3 separate regions of the Homo sapiens genome follow, and all the other regions are linked to region 1. The links come from fine-mapping of genetic effects on gene expression. A gene starts in region 1. Each other region holds a variant in brackets. All regions are shown on one strand. Distances are from middle to middle.

Evidence for each region. PIP is the estimated chance that this variant, and not a neighbour inherited with it, causes the effect. A credible set is the group of variants that fine-mapping cannot tell apart.
Region 2: its variant is the best candidate, but not a certain one, in a credible set for the expression of LDLRAD3 in monocytes (Quach 2016, PIP 0.80).
Region 3: its variant is the best candidate, but not a certain one, in a credible set for the expression of LDLRAD3 in prefrontal cortex (CommonMind, PIP 0.62).

The regions. Positions count from the first base shown.
Region 1 is chr11:35,942,053-35,946,295 of GRCh38, forward strand. It overlaps LDLRAD3 (low density lipoprotein receptor class A domain containing 3), which reads left to right and starts at 2,010. Exons shown (of 6, transcript NM_174902.4): 1 at 2,010-2,092. The coding sequence starts at 2,047. RefSeq lists a silencer at 1,921-2,360.
Region 2 is chr11:35,920,086-35,924,328 of GRCh38, forward strand. No RefSeq gene overlaps it. Among named protein-coding and RNA genes, the nearest start is that of LDLRAD3, 22 kb to the right of the region's middle. The variant A/G (reference allele first, on the strand shown) is at 1,998.
Region 3 is chr11:35,914,960-35,919,202 of GRCh38, forward strand. No RefSeq gene overlaps it. Among named protein-coding and RNA genes, the nearest start is that of LDLRAD3, 27 kb to the right of the region's middle. The variant C/G (reference allele first, on the strand shown) is at 1,604.

The DNA.
Region 1 (4,243 bases):
TTGGGAGGCTGAGGCAGGAGAATCCCTGGAACTCGGGAGGCGGAGGTTGCAGTGAGCCAAAATGTGCCACTGCACCCAGCCTGGGCAACAGAGTGAGACTCTGTTTCATAAATAAATAAATAGATAAATAAATAAATAAATACAACAGTTGACCTTAAATAAGGTTTTACATTAGTCCAAATGATTTCAAAGACATTAATATATTTATATTTAAAAGTGTGTGTGCCTGTGTGTATGTGAGAGAGAGAGAACGAGAGAGAGAGTCAGAGTCAAACTTGCAAAGTAAGGAAGTTGATGTGTCCAAAGAAACCTAAGGAAATAAGAACTATAGCAGTGGGTCAGTTGCATTATCTTTCCGTATCCCTAATGTTTGGAGGCAAATGAGCAGCTGTAGGAGAAATTATTTGCTTATTTGCCTCCTCAGATATTATTATCAAAGGCAGGAGGCCTCTTCCCAACAAGCTTCCCGGAACAATGCACATACCCACATGCACAGGACATTTTGCATAAAATTTTAAGGGCTTTAAAATTCTTTGAAGCCCATGGGACGATCTCCATAATATTCATCAATCCCAGGATAAAAGCCCCGAATGCCAAATCATTTAGATAATTGATTTATATTTTCCATGTGTACTATGAACTATGGAACTTAACCTTTCCTCCCTCACATCACATTTTCTCATTACCTTGAACAATCATTGGTATTTTTAAATTTTGACCTGATCCTTTTTAGCCTTTATGTTTCCAGACTACAGCACGCAATTACAGAGTAAAGTAATTGAATCTTAACACCCTTGAGGGTGTCTCCAGGGCATCCCAAAATCTGACGCAGGCATCCCTTTTATAACTGCCCCTGTACCCATACCTTCCCCTTTCTTTCAGCCAGGTGGAGTTTGTGTAAATAAACTCAACCCTTTTGAGGGGTGGATTTTAGGGATGCAGTTCTATTGTTTTGACAAATGTATACAGTTGTGTAACTACCTCTATAATCAAGATTAGAACAGTCCCACTGCCCCCAAAAGTTTTAATTTATTGATCCATTTATCAATTGATGGACACTTGAGTTGTTTCCAGTTTTTGGCAATTATTTGCGTTAGTCTTTTGCTTTTTTTGGGTGGGGGATCAGAGAGAGTGGAGCACAGAAGTGTCATCCCCTTCTTCCACCATCTAAGTCTTTTGGGGCTTTTCACCAGTGCCCTCTGGAAGCAAGTGCATTGGTGCAGCTATATTTTTTGCATTTGGGTATCTGCCTTTCATGACCTTTTCCTTTTTTTAATTTTATTTTTTCCAAATTGGGTCCCAAACGTTCAACAGGTCAAGGTGGACACTATGCAGACAAAATAACTCATGTGGTCCACGCTGTGTGCATGGTAGGTGTCAGCTGCTCTTACCGGTGGCTCCCGGATCATCAGCCTTGGAATCAGCCACCATGTTGTTAAAAATGCAGAATCTCAGGCTCCACGCCAGATCTACTGAACCAGAGTCAGTATTTTAACAAGATCGTCAAGTGTGCCGGATGCATATTAAAGTTTGAGAAGCACTGGTATTCCACACTCGCTACTAAAAATATACTACAATTTTCTCATAAGATTTGACCCTTTATTTTAACTTTTTCTCTCTCGGTAGTAAACTCACTTTGTAGTTTGAGTAAAGAACTCAAGTTTTGGTCTGGGCGCTGCATCTCGCTGGGTGTGGAAGCAAAGGCAGAAATGAGAGGGACAAAAGGAAGCAGAGAACAGAGCCCAGGCTGTTAGAAGATCCTCGCGGCCAGACCTGGGAGGCTGAAAGGCTGAGAGACCGAAAGGCTGAACCCTCCGCCGCGCTCGGCGGCCCCTCGGAGTCAGGACACCCAGGGTAACATGCGGGTGGCCACGCGCAGCCCAGGCGCTTGCAAAACTTAGCGGAGCCGGGCCGGGGCCGGGCCCGGGGAAGGCGGGAGGGAGGAGGGCCAGGCGGGAGGGCGGGGACGGCGCGGCGAGGGGCGGGGTCAGCGCCGAGGCCGCGGGGGCAGCAACGACGCCGGGCAGCGGGAGCGGCGGCCGCGCCATGTGGCTGCTGGGGCCGCTGTGCCTGCTGCTGAGCAGCGCCGCGGGTGAGTCGGGGGGCGGCCGGCGAACTTCCCGCGGGGCGCGGGGCGCGGGGCGCGGGGCGCAGCGGCCGGGTGCGATCGCGTCCTCTCCCGGGCGCGGGCCGCTCTCCGGGCGTGGGTGAGCGCGGAGGGCGGACCCCGGCGCCGGGCTGGCCCGGACCCTGCCGAGGGGCCGCCGCGGGGTGCGAGCCGTCCTATTGTGTGGGCGTGCGCGCCGGGTCGTGTTGTGCTGTGTGCGCGGGCGGGGCTCTGTGTGCAGTCCGGGTCTGGGGAGCCCGGCGGCTGCCCCGATTGGGCGTAGCTCGAGTGTGGCTGTGTGTGTGTTGTGTGTGTTGAGGAACGGAGGCGGGGAAAGGAAAGGAGAGGAGAGGAGAGAACTCTTCCCTGGTCTCATCTTCCCAGACGCCTGGTCGCGCGCGGCTGCGTTAGCCTCCTCTGGGCCTCTTCCCGAGTCTCTGGCGTGCACTCCGTGCCTCAGTTTCCCCACCTGCACCGCGGAGGGAGTAGCAAAGCTGCTTCCTTTCATTCCTCTCTGGGACTGTTTGGTTTGGGTAAAGTGAGTTGAAGCAAGGCCGGATCTGGGAATTCATTTTTCCCCACTGATCCTGGGAACCGAAGCTTTATTTAAGACGTCTGACCACCCTACTTGCCCCGCGATGGGCGCCCTGACCGGCGAGGGGCCCTGGGAGAGGACACGGGGCTTCATCCGGCGGCCCTTTGAACCTGGCATCACCACCGCGTGTGCATCCCGGGGCCTGGACCGCAGCAAGCCTCTTTCCCTTCCAGACAGCGTGCTGTTCCCAGGAACTTTTCTGCTGATGTGGGCATGATCCGAATTCCAGCCTGGGAGCCCTTCCTCCTCTGCCCCTGCCCGCCGCCCACAGCTGTCAGCTGTCCCTCCTGGACTGGGCCCGCCCTTGGCCCCTTGACGTTTATTTCTGGGCATCTGATGCCTAGAATGTGGGTGACAGGGCCCAGTGAACTTTCTTCAGCAGAATCTTGCCTGCCTGGTGTTTGTGCCATCCACATGTCCAATAGCTGCCCTATTTTGCCAAGTGCTTCTAGCAGCTTGGCTGTCGAGGTGTCTTTGGTGGCCTGTGGGTTTGCTAAGTTGAGGCTCACTTCATTCTTAGCTGTGCCTTGGAGTTATGAATGCGTTAAAGGGATATCTCCTCTCTTCCTTGATGTCCCTGGTCCTGGGCATCCTCACAGCCCACTGGGCAGCCTTTCCTGCTCTCAGACCCATGACATCATCTCCACTCCTCTGATACCCCATTTAGATGCTTATGGGTTTGCTGGGCTTCCAGGGAGGGACTAGACCTCCTGGTGACTGCTGTGGATTTTTAACCAGGTCTGGGTGAGAGTGCCCTTAAATTAGTCCACCTGGGGAGAGAGTTCTCACAGGACATTGGGCAGCCAGGAGCAGGTGTGAATTGTTTGGAGGCTGTTAGAGCAGGTCGATTTTCAGGGCGTCTACAGATATGAAGACCTGTTTGGATTCACAAATTCAATCTGTGTAGCTGTGGTGTGTCCCCTCATAGCACCTGAGAAGGACAGTATGGAAGCTGGCTCTTGTGTGTGTCCTGGGAGAGCCACTGTAGCCAAATGGAAACTTATTTATTGCATCTCCCAGTTGGTACTGGGTTGCTTTAGTTGAGTCTCCATCTCTGTAAAAATAGTTGTAAAGTTAATTTTGTCCCTCTCTGGTCAGCAGTGGCTATTTAATGTGTGTGTGTACATCTGAGATAGGGCTAAAATAAATAAAATGGTCATAGCAAGGAGCAGACGGATAGGGGGAGGAATAGTCCAACTGTCCCTGGTGGGTTTTCCATTATCTGTGGGCTTTGAATTACCTTTAGAGTTGCTGCCTTAGAAACATCTAGGCAGGTTGGAGTGTGTGCATCTTTCATGTTACATTAAGCATCATCTTTTTAGCATAGATTTCACTTTGACCCAAGTGTTGCCAGAAACAGGGCTGGTCCTTTTTCCTAATGTCAACTAGATGCTCCTGGGCTCCCAGCCCATAAGAAAAGCCTGTTTGGTTCAGTTTGGGTTTCATAGCCAGACCAGAGACCCTACCCCTCCATCCCATGGCCTATGCTTGGATCCTCTTCTGGGAAGTTGATAAAACAAGAGAGATTGTAAAAGCCAAGA
Region 2 (4,243 bases), 22 kb before region 1:
CTGTGGGACTTTGGGAAAGTCACTTAACCTTTTTCTGCTTGTTTCATCATCTATAACACGGGGATAATAATAGTACATACCTCATTGGGTTATTGTGAACATTATATAGGTTACTATGAATAAAGTGCTTAGGAAAATGACTAATGCATGGTAAGAGCTTGTATGTGTTAGCTATCATTATTTTTACTAAATAATTCTTCCCCATGTAGGTACTGGATTTGTTTGTTGAGTGAATAAATAGATGAATGGATAAAATCAGCCTTAGCATTCACTGCACATAAAACACAAACCTCTCAGTCCCATTTTGCCCAGGTCCATTTTCTCAGCCATGACTGGTGTGCGGTGAGGCTCAGACCTCCTGGTTGTTTCTAAAGCCTTCTTGGGTCTCCACTCTGCAACTTCTGGAAGCTAACCAACCCCCACCAACCCCTCACATATTTAAAAAACAAAGTGTAGTCTAAAATCCATTCAGGGAAAAAAGTTTATTTAAATAAAAATAAAGCAATATTGTCTGTGAAACAAGCACTTAAATAAATGAAACATTTTTCACTGTATGGAAGGACTTTGAAATGGACCAAATGCATTACTGAGTACCTTCAGTGAAAATCTATGTGCTGTCTTGGGCAACCTTCCAGGGTGTTTGATTCTGTGGGATTGCTGCACCTTTCACTGCCTTGAACAATTTTACAACTTTGTAAGTTGCAGCTAACTGATTGCAATACAAGTGATTATTTTCCATGGACATGTGTATGAGTTTTCTGTTGCTGTTTTTAAAAAACTACCATAAACTAAGCAACTTGATATAACATACATGTATTATCTTGTATTTTCTGTGGGTTAGGAGTTCAGGCACAGGTTAACTGGGTCTTCTGCCCAGGATATCAGCAGGTTGAAATCATGATGTGGTCCTGGGCTTGGGTTTCTCTCCTAAGTGCATTTCATTGACAGAATTCATCTTGTGGTTTAAGACTGAGGTCCCTGATTTTTTTTGTTGTTGTTGTTGTTTTTGTTTTTTTTGAGACGGAGTCTCGCTCTGTCGCTCAGGCTGGAGTACAGTGGCACAATCTCGGCACACTGCAATCTCTGCCTCCTGGGTTCAAGCAATTTTCCTGCCTCAGCCTCCCGTGTAGTTGGGACCACAGGCACGTGCTACAATGCCCGGCCAATTTTTTGTATTTTTAGTACTGACGGGTTTTCACCGTGTTAGCCAGGATGGTCTTGATCTCCTGACTTCGTGATCTACCCACCTTGGCCTCCCAAAGTGCTGCGATTACAGGCATGAGCCACCGAGCCCGGCCCCCTGATTTTTTACTGGCTGTCAGCATGGGCTATTCTCAGTTTCTAGAGGCCACCTGCTGTTCCCTACCACGTGGCCTTCACAACTTGGCAATTTGCCTCTCAAAGGTCAGCAGAATCTTTCCTACTTTAAATCTCTTTATTTAAGGGTTTGCTTGATTTAGATCATACCTACTCAGGATAATCTCCCTTTTGATTAATTTGTCTCAAACATTTAATTACACCTGCAAATTCCTTTCACCTTTGTTGACCAATGTAACCTAATCATGAGAATGAAATCCATCATACTCACAGTCCTGCCCATACTCAAGAAGAAGAAATTCTGCAGGGGGTCAGCCATGGTGGCTCACGCCTGTAATCCCAGCACTTTGGGAGGCCGAGGCGAGTGGATCACTTGAGGTCAGGAGTTCAAGACCAGCCTGGCCAACATGGTGAAACCCCTTCTCTATTAAAAATACAAAAATTAGCTGGGCATGGTGGTGCACACCTGTAGTCCCAGCTACTCGTGAGGCTGAGACAGGATGATTGCTTGAACCCGGGAGGCGGTGGTTGCAGTGATACAAGATCACACCAGTGTACTCCAACCTAGGCAACAGGGCGAGACTCCGTCTCAAAAAAAAAAAAGAAAAGAAAAGATAAAAAAAAAAGAAATTCTACAGTCTCAAAAAAAAAAAAAAGTTATGCAAGGCATGTACACTAAG[A/G]GGTAGGACTCTTAGAATTCTGGCTACCACAACATGCAATTAATTTTGAAAATTGTCCCTACTATTTCCCCTCAAGCCAGTTTTTGCATCTCTTCAACAAATTTGTCAGCTTTCTTGTTTTTGTTTGTTTGTTTGTTTGTTTTGGTGGTTTTTTTGGTTTTGTTTGAAACAAGGTTTCACTCTGTTGCCCAGGCCAGAGTGCAGTGGTGTGATCATAGTTGCAGTTGCTCACTGCAACTTTGAACTCCTGGGCTCAAGAGATCCTCCCCCTTCAGCCTCATCTAGGCATTACGGCCACCAACCACCAAGCCCAACTAATTTTTAAATTTTTGGTAGAGATGGGATCTAACTATGTTGCCCAGGCTGTTCTCACACTCTTGGGCTCAAGCAGTCCTCCTCCCTGGGCCTCCTGAAGTGTTGGGATGACAGGTGTGAGCCACCACACTCAGCTGTCGGCACTCTTGATTGCCCATATGTGTATCCACTCTTTGATTTCCTTTGAACCTGTTATAACGTCTTACTGTTTTCCTCATTAATTAATGAGTGAAATAAAATATTTGACATGTGTTCACTTTCTGTTTGTATGAGTCATGGTTTTACTTTTTAAAGTATTCTATTTTACATCAACTTTTATATTAATATTTATTGCATAATTTTTCTTAAAAATGATGGATATGTTACTTACTTTTACATGTGCAACCAAAGGGCTGTTTCCCTTTTCTAGAACTTCTAGCTCTTGAAACCTAATATTATTTGCTTCTGTGAAAATATAATGTTTCTGGCTTTTACTAGCCTCATTTTAAGCGGCCTAATCCTGGGACATAGCAGTAGAACTACCATTACCTTAGCGTTAGAGAGGAGCAAACAACAACCCACCTCACCACCCCTAGATTAATTTCCTTCCTTATGAACAAAAAATATCAAAGGGCCCTGCTGACATTTTCTTCTAGAATCTTGGGATTCCAGGATTTTGCTACTGGAAAGGGCAGAGGATTTTTCTCCTCTCTATGCTCAAAATAACGCACTTTTCTGATCACTAACAATGCCTTTGTGGAAACAAATATCAATGAAAATTAGATGTTATCTTCCTGTGCCTAGCGTGGTGCCTGGTACATAGTAGGTCTTCAGGAGATGTTAGGTCTCTGCTTCCTTTCCAGCCATACTGTGAAGGGTGAAAATAGAAGAGGCATAAAGAGGCTTCTGGGTTCCTGCCTCTATCCTGGCATCAAGCTCATTGGCGGCAGGGCCAGTCTTTCACAAGTGAGTATAGCACCTATGTAGCACACTCCTGATCACTTCCACGAGCAAAGAAAAATCTTGGTCTTGCCAGAGAGGCAAATGAAAGATTAATGCCAGTTAAATAATATATAATAGTAAGATCATTATCCTGTCCTCTCCCAGTCAACTAACTTTGTAATGTGTTAACACTTATGGGGTATACAAAATCAAACTCCATAAACTGTTGTAAAGTGGAAGGAACGATGCTGATTAGTCTGGCGGCACACAAGGACACAAGAATTGTTCTTTGTTTCCCTTTTTCGAGTGAGGAGCCAAGCTGACATTCTGGACAATCATGACAAAACAAATTTCCTGTCCAAGTTTAACAGGAAGCATCCAATCTTTACAACTCGTGCTTCCCATTACACACCCCCATGCTAACTTTCTCACAAGTTTCCTCTACCTTTAAAAGCAAAGGCTGTAATGTCATAGTTTTGTCTTCAAAGCCATCAGCAAATATTGGTCATGTTTCATCAAATTGTGTCCTGGAGAGACAGAAAACCCACATGACTCCCTTTTTCCATTTCTTCTTACTGCGTGGTAAGAATGAAACAACAAACTATTATAGAAAAAGCCTTAAAGAAGGGACTTAAGATGGAGATAGGGAAAGGTATGGTTTGCAGCGTAAAAGTAGAAAAGACAATCAAGTGTGAGCAGTGCACGTTTTTGAAATTGCTTCTGAAACCACTATTATAGGTTACATTGTCAGCAGGCTGTATTGATTATTTTTAGGTAATATATTTGTAGAATCTCTGCTAATGGACACTTCAGGATCATCTTTTGCATTTAATGTATCTAATACCCATTGATCAGGTCATTGGCTTATTGGTTATCTACTTTGCTGCCCAATGATTCTCTATAATTGTTTTCTTCACTACCCATTTCTATTCCAGGAGCAGCTTCTATTGTGTCCCATTACACTAATGGAAATTATTGACATGGAAATTAGTAGGTGCTGAGCTTAAGAA
Region 3 (4,243 bases), 27 kb before region 1:
GCTCTCTGGACGATATTATCTCCTTGGCATCTCATCTAAATGCAACACACAACCAAAGTCAGAGCAGACAGAAACCACAAGGAACACGTAAGAGACAGAAGTCAGGGGCCTACCACTTTGCCAATGAGGCAGACTGGAAAGGCAGGCCTGACCCAAATTGCTTCTCACTATAAATAGCTTTATTAAGAATGGGTTGTACTTAGCCACCCCTCAGATGAGATCAAAGCATCTTGAATACATTTCCTGGATGTGGTCTGTTGGGTATAAGAATGACCCAAATTCTTTATGTCCGTACACTGTAGCCAAAATTCAACCAAATGGCATTCTCCTGGAATGGAGACCAGAACCTGGCTTATCCATCTGCATGTGTTCTATGGATATATTCCTACCCTGAGTGTAGGAAAAGAAAGGGGGAATTAGAAACATAGACATTTTTTAAGCATTTCACCCATTTTATTGCATGTAGTTGTCCCAATAATTCTACAAGCCAGGACTTTTATCTCTTTCAGAGAAGAGCAAAATGAGGCTCAGAGAGGGTAAGTATCTCACCCTAAGTCATACAGGACAGGAAAGAAATGGCAAAGCCAGGACATGAATGTGAATCAAACTGCCCAATTTTTTTTTCTTTTTCTTTTTGAGATGGAGTCTTGCTCTGTCACCAGGCTAGAGTGCGGTGGCACAAGCTCGGCTCACTGCAACCTCCGCCTCCTAGGTTCAAGAAATTCTCCTGCCTCAGCCTCCTGAGTAGCTGAGACTACAGGCACACACCACCACACCCAGCTTATTTTTATATTTTCAGTAGAGACGGGGTTTCACTATGTTGGCCAGGATGGTCTTGATCTCTTGACCTCGTGATCTGCCCGCCTCAGCCTCCCAAAGTGCTGGGATTACAGGCATAAGCCACCTCACCCGGCCTCAAACTGCTCAATTTTAAGGTCTCTGTACCCTCTATCATCACACAGCAGGGGGTCTCAAGTAGGCAAATTTCTTATGGACTGACTTCTGAGATGGCCATGTCCCTACAGATGTACAATCTTCTATCTTTGCCTTAGAGTTGCTGTTGAGCTATTGCAGGGAAGGAAGTGGGGAGGTGGTGAATCTAGGAGAGTTAGAATGAGGACTCCAGGGGTTATATCACTTTGATGAAAAAATAACATTATAAGGCATGGCATATTGGTTATAAATTTGTGCAATTTTTATGTGTCAGTTTCTCTGTCTGAATGAACCTCATCTATCCTGTATCAACACAAGTAATTTGTATGTCTTTTTATAGGTTTTTGTTTCATCTTGAACTCCTAGGGCCTGAGAGCCCTGACCATCTATGTTATACCTAGAATTTAGAATTGTTTTTCCTTTTCTTTCAATCCTGATTTAGTGTGGAATTCAGAGTCAGTGCAGGCAACTCAAGAGTGTATGATTATTGCAGAAACAGGCTGCCCAGCCAGGGTCACATTTCATAGTCCTCTGAATGTAGCTGGCCCCATGTGGTCATTTCTAGTCCAAGGTATTTAAGAAAGAGATATGCTCCTTCACGCTTCCTCTTTTCTCTTCCACCTGGTTGCAGAGAACTTTGCAACTAGATGTGGTAGCTCACACCTGTAAT[C/G]TCAGCACTCTGGGAGGCCAGGAATTTAAGACTAGCCTGGGCAACATAGTGAGACCCTCATGTCTACCAAAAAAAAAAAAAGAAAGAAAGAAAGAAAGAAAGAAAAATTAGCCAGGCATGGTGATGTGCACCTGTGGTCCCAGCTACTCAGGAGGCTGAGGCAAGAGGATCACTTGAGTCTGGGAGGTTGAGGTTGGGGCTGCAGTGAGCCATGATTGCACCACTGCGCTCCAGCCTGGGTGACAGAGCAAGATCCTATCTCGAAAACAAAACAAAACTTGAGTATGCCTCAGAATCAACTAGAAGGCTGTTAAAACACAGATTGCTGGGGGCTCTATCCCCAGAGTTTTTCTTCAGTAGATCAGGGACTTGATAATTTGCAAGTCTTACAAGTTCCCAGATGTTGTGGATATACCAATCTGGGCACCACACGTTGGGAACCACTGCCCTAGGGCAACACCCTTGTGTAACACTGGCTATACTTTAGACACCCCTGGAGGTGTTTTAAACTTGTTGATGCCCAAGCTGCAACTAAAACCAATAAAATCAGAATATCTTGGGGATGGGGCTCATGTATTAGCATAAAGCTCCTCAGGTAATTACAATATTGAGTTAAAATTGAAAATCACCAGTGTAAGGTGGAGCCTTAAGATTGAAGAAACATTGGTTCTTAAATCATTGAGTGGAGGAAAGCAGCCCTACTCGAAGAAATACCCACTTTGGATTGTCATACAAACAGGAAATAAACTTTTATTGGGATAGGCTGCTGAAATTTTGGAGATGATTTGCTGTTGCAGCTGGCATTATCCTTATTAATACTACAATGTTGACTATTAAGAACCAGCTTTCAAACATTCTGTTGCTTATCCTTTTAATTCCTGCCTTGTTCTGCTCTGAGAGTATTGATATGATTGGTTAGATTCTGCGATAATTAGTGGCCCGTATTTTCTAGAGGTGGAACTTACAACAGAAATAAGGTTATATACAGCACACGTAACATAGGCATAGCCTCTCTTTTTCTCTCTATCCTCGTGGCCAGAATAGCAGGGTAGCTCTAGTTCATTCTCTTCCCTTCTCCCCACTCCTTCACTTTTTCTCTCCTTGGAAACACAGTCCTCCTCCCACCTGGAAGCAGGCTCAGATTTCTTCACTCAATTTGAAAGGACTTGGGCAGCCACCATTCGGCAAATATTCTAGGCAAAGGTGACAAAATACTTTCGCTTTTTTCTCTGATATAGTTGAAAACCAAGAATCAAAACCAAACCACAAAAAACCTGAGCCAATACACATCAGCCAGAGGCAGAGAACATGAAACTAGAAAGTCGAACAGGTAATACCTGAGAATTGGGCTTGAACCATGACAGGCAAGAAGCATGAGGTCCACTCTTGCTCAAGTTTGCATTATGGTTTTTCACCAAAGCTCTCTCTAAAAATAAAGTGCTACTTACCGCTCCTGTGAAGGCACTGCTGAGAAATGGGGCTAGCCAGCCAAAGGTGGGATTCAGGTGTTTCAGGGTCCTCTGGCCAAATGTCTTCATCGACCCTCCATTAGCTAAAAAGATGGTGTAATTGTGCAAACATAAGCATTTAAAAGGCATGGTGACCAAAAGCAGATATGGATGACTTTTATTGAGGAATCAACCCATGTCTGTGTTCACTCTAAGGGAGACTAACATGTGAATAAACAACTGGACAGATTCCCCCCACCACCCATAAAACTGTCAGGTTTTTGATGGACAGAAATGGAAAAGCTAATGGCTCTAAAAGCATATGTTGCAAGTTCTGCCTTTTCATGATAAACGTAAAGGGACAATAGCCTCAGTTGAGAATCAGTTTCCTGGCTGACGGCAGTGAACTGCCCCTCTCCTGGCTGCTCTTGTTCTTGGAGCTTCCCCTCAACTTTCCCTAGTGGGAAAAGGACAACTTTTTTGGTTGTGAGAAAGAGAAAATCCAACCTAAGATAGTGCTCAAAGAAATTTTATTGAATCATGTACTGAATGTCTGAAATCAGGACTTACTTTAGACATTGATTGATTCGAGGGCTCAAGCACTGTCCTCAAGATCCAGCGTCTCTTGTTCTCGTCCTGACTTGACTGTGTTCTCAAACCCGTGTTCCCTCAATAGATGGAGATGGCTACAGCCGTTCCAACCTCATACCTCTCAAGTCAAGCAAGGATCTAGTGAGAGTCTCCTTCCCAGAATTCCCTGCAAAAGTCTCATTGTGTCTCTAATTGGCTCTAATTAAGTCACATAATTATCAATGAGCCAGTCATTGGAGTCCAAGGAAATGCAATACCTCAATGGGCTTAAACCTAAATCACATGCCCTAGTCCTGAGCCAGGGTGAGTCATCCTGGCAGAAAGAAGAAGGGATGGCGGAATTGTCAAAAGAAGGGGGATTAGATTCTGGACAGCCAAAAAGGAACAGGTGTCTGGCATAGTATCCCTGACTTCCAGGGCCAATCAAAGAAAATTCTTCCTTAACTGTTTTCTCCTGTGGGGCAGCTTAGCGGGCACATATGATTCCCTACATTATGTTTCCAACTAGTCACAATAAAAGGGGAAGGATGGAAACAGGAATAAGCCTGAAAAGGGAACAGAATTGAGGGGAGAGCTCTCCTGAGGAGGGAAGAATGAGACT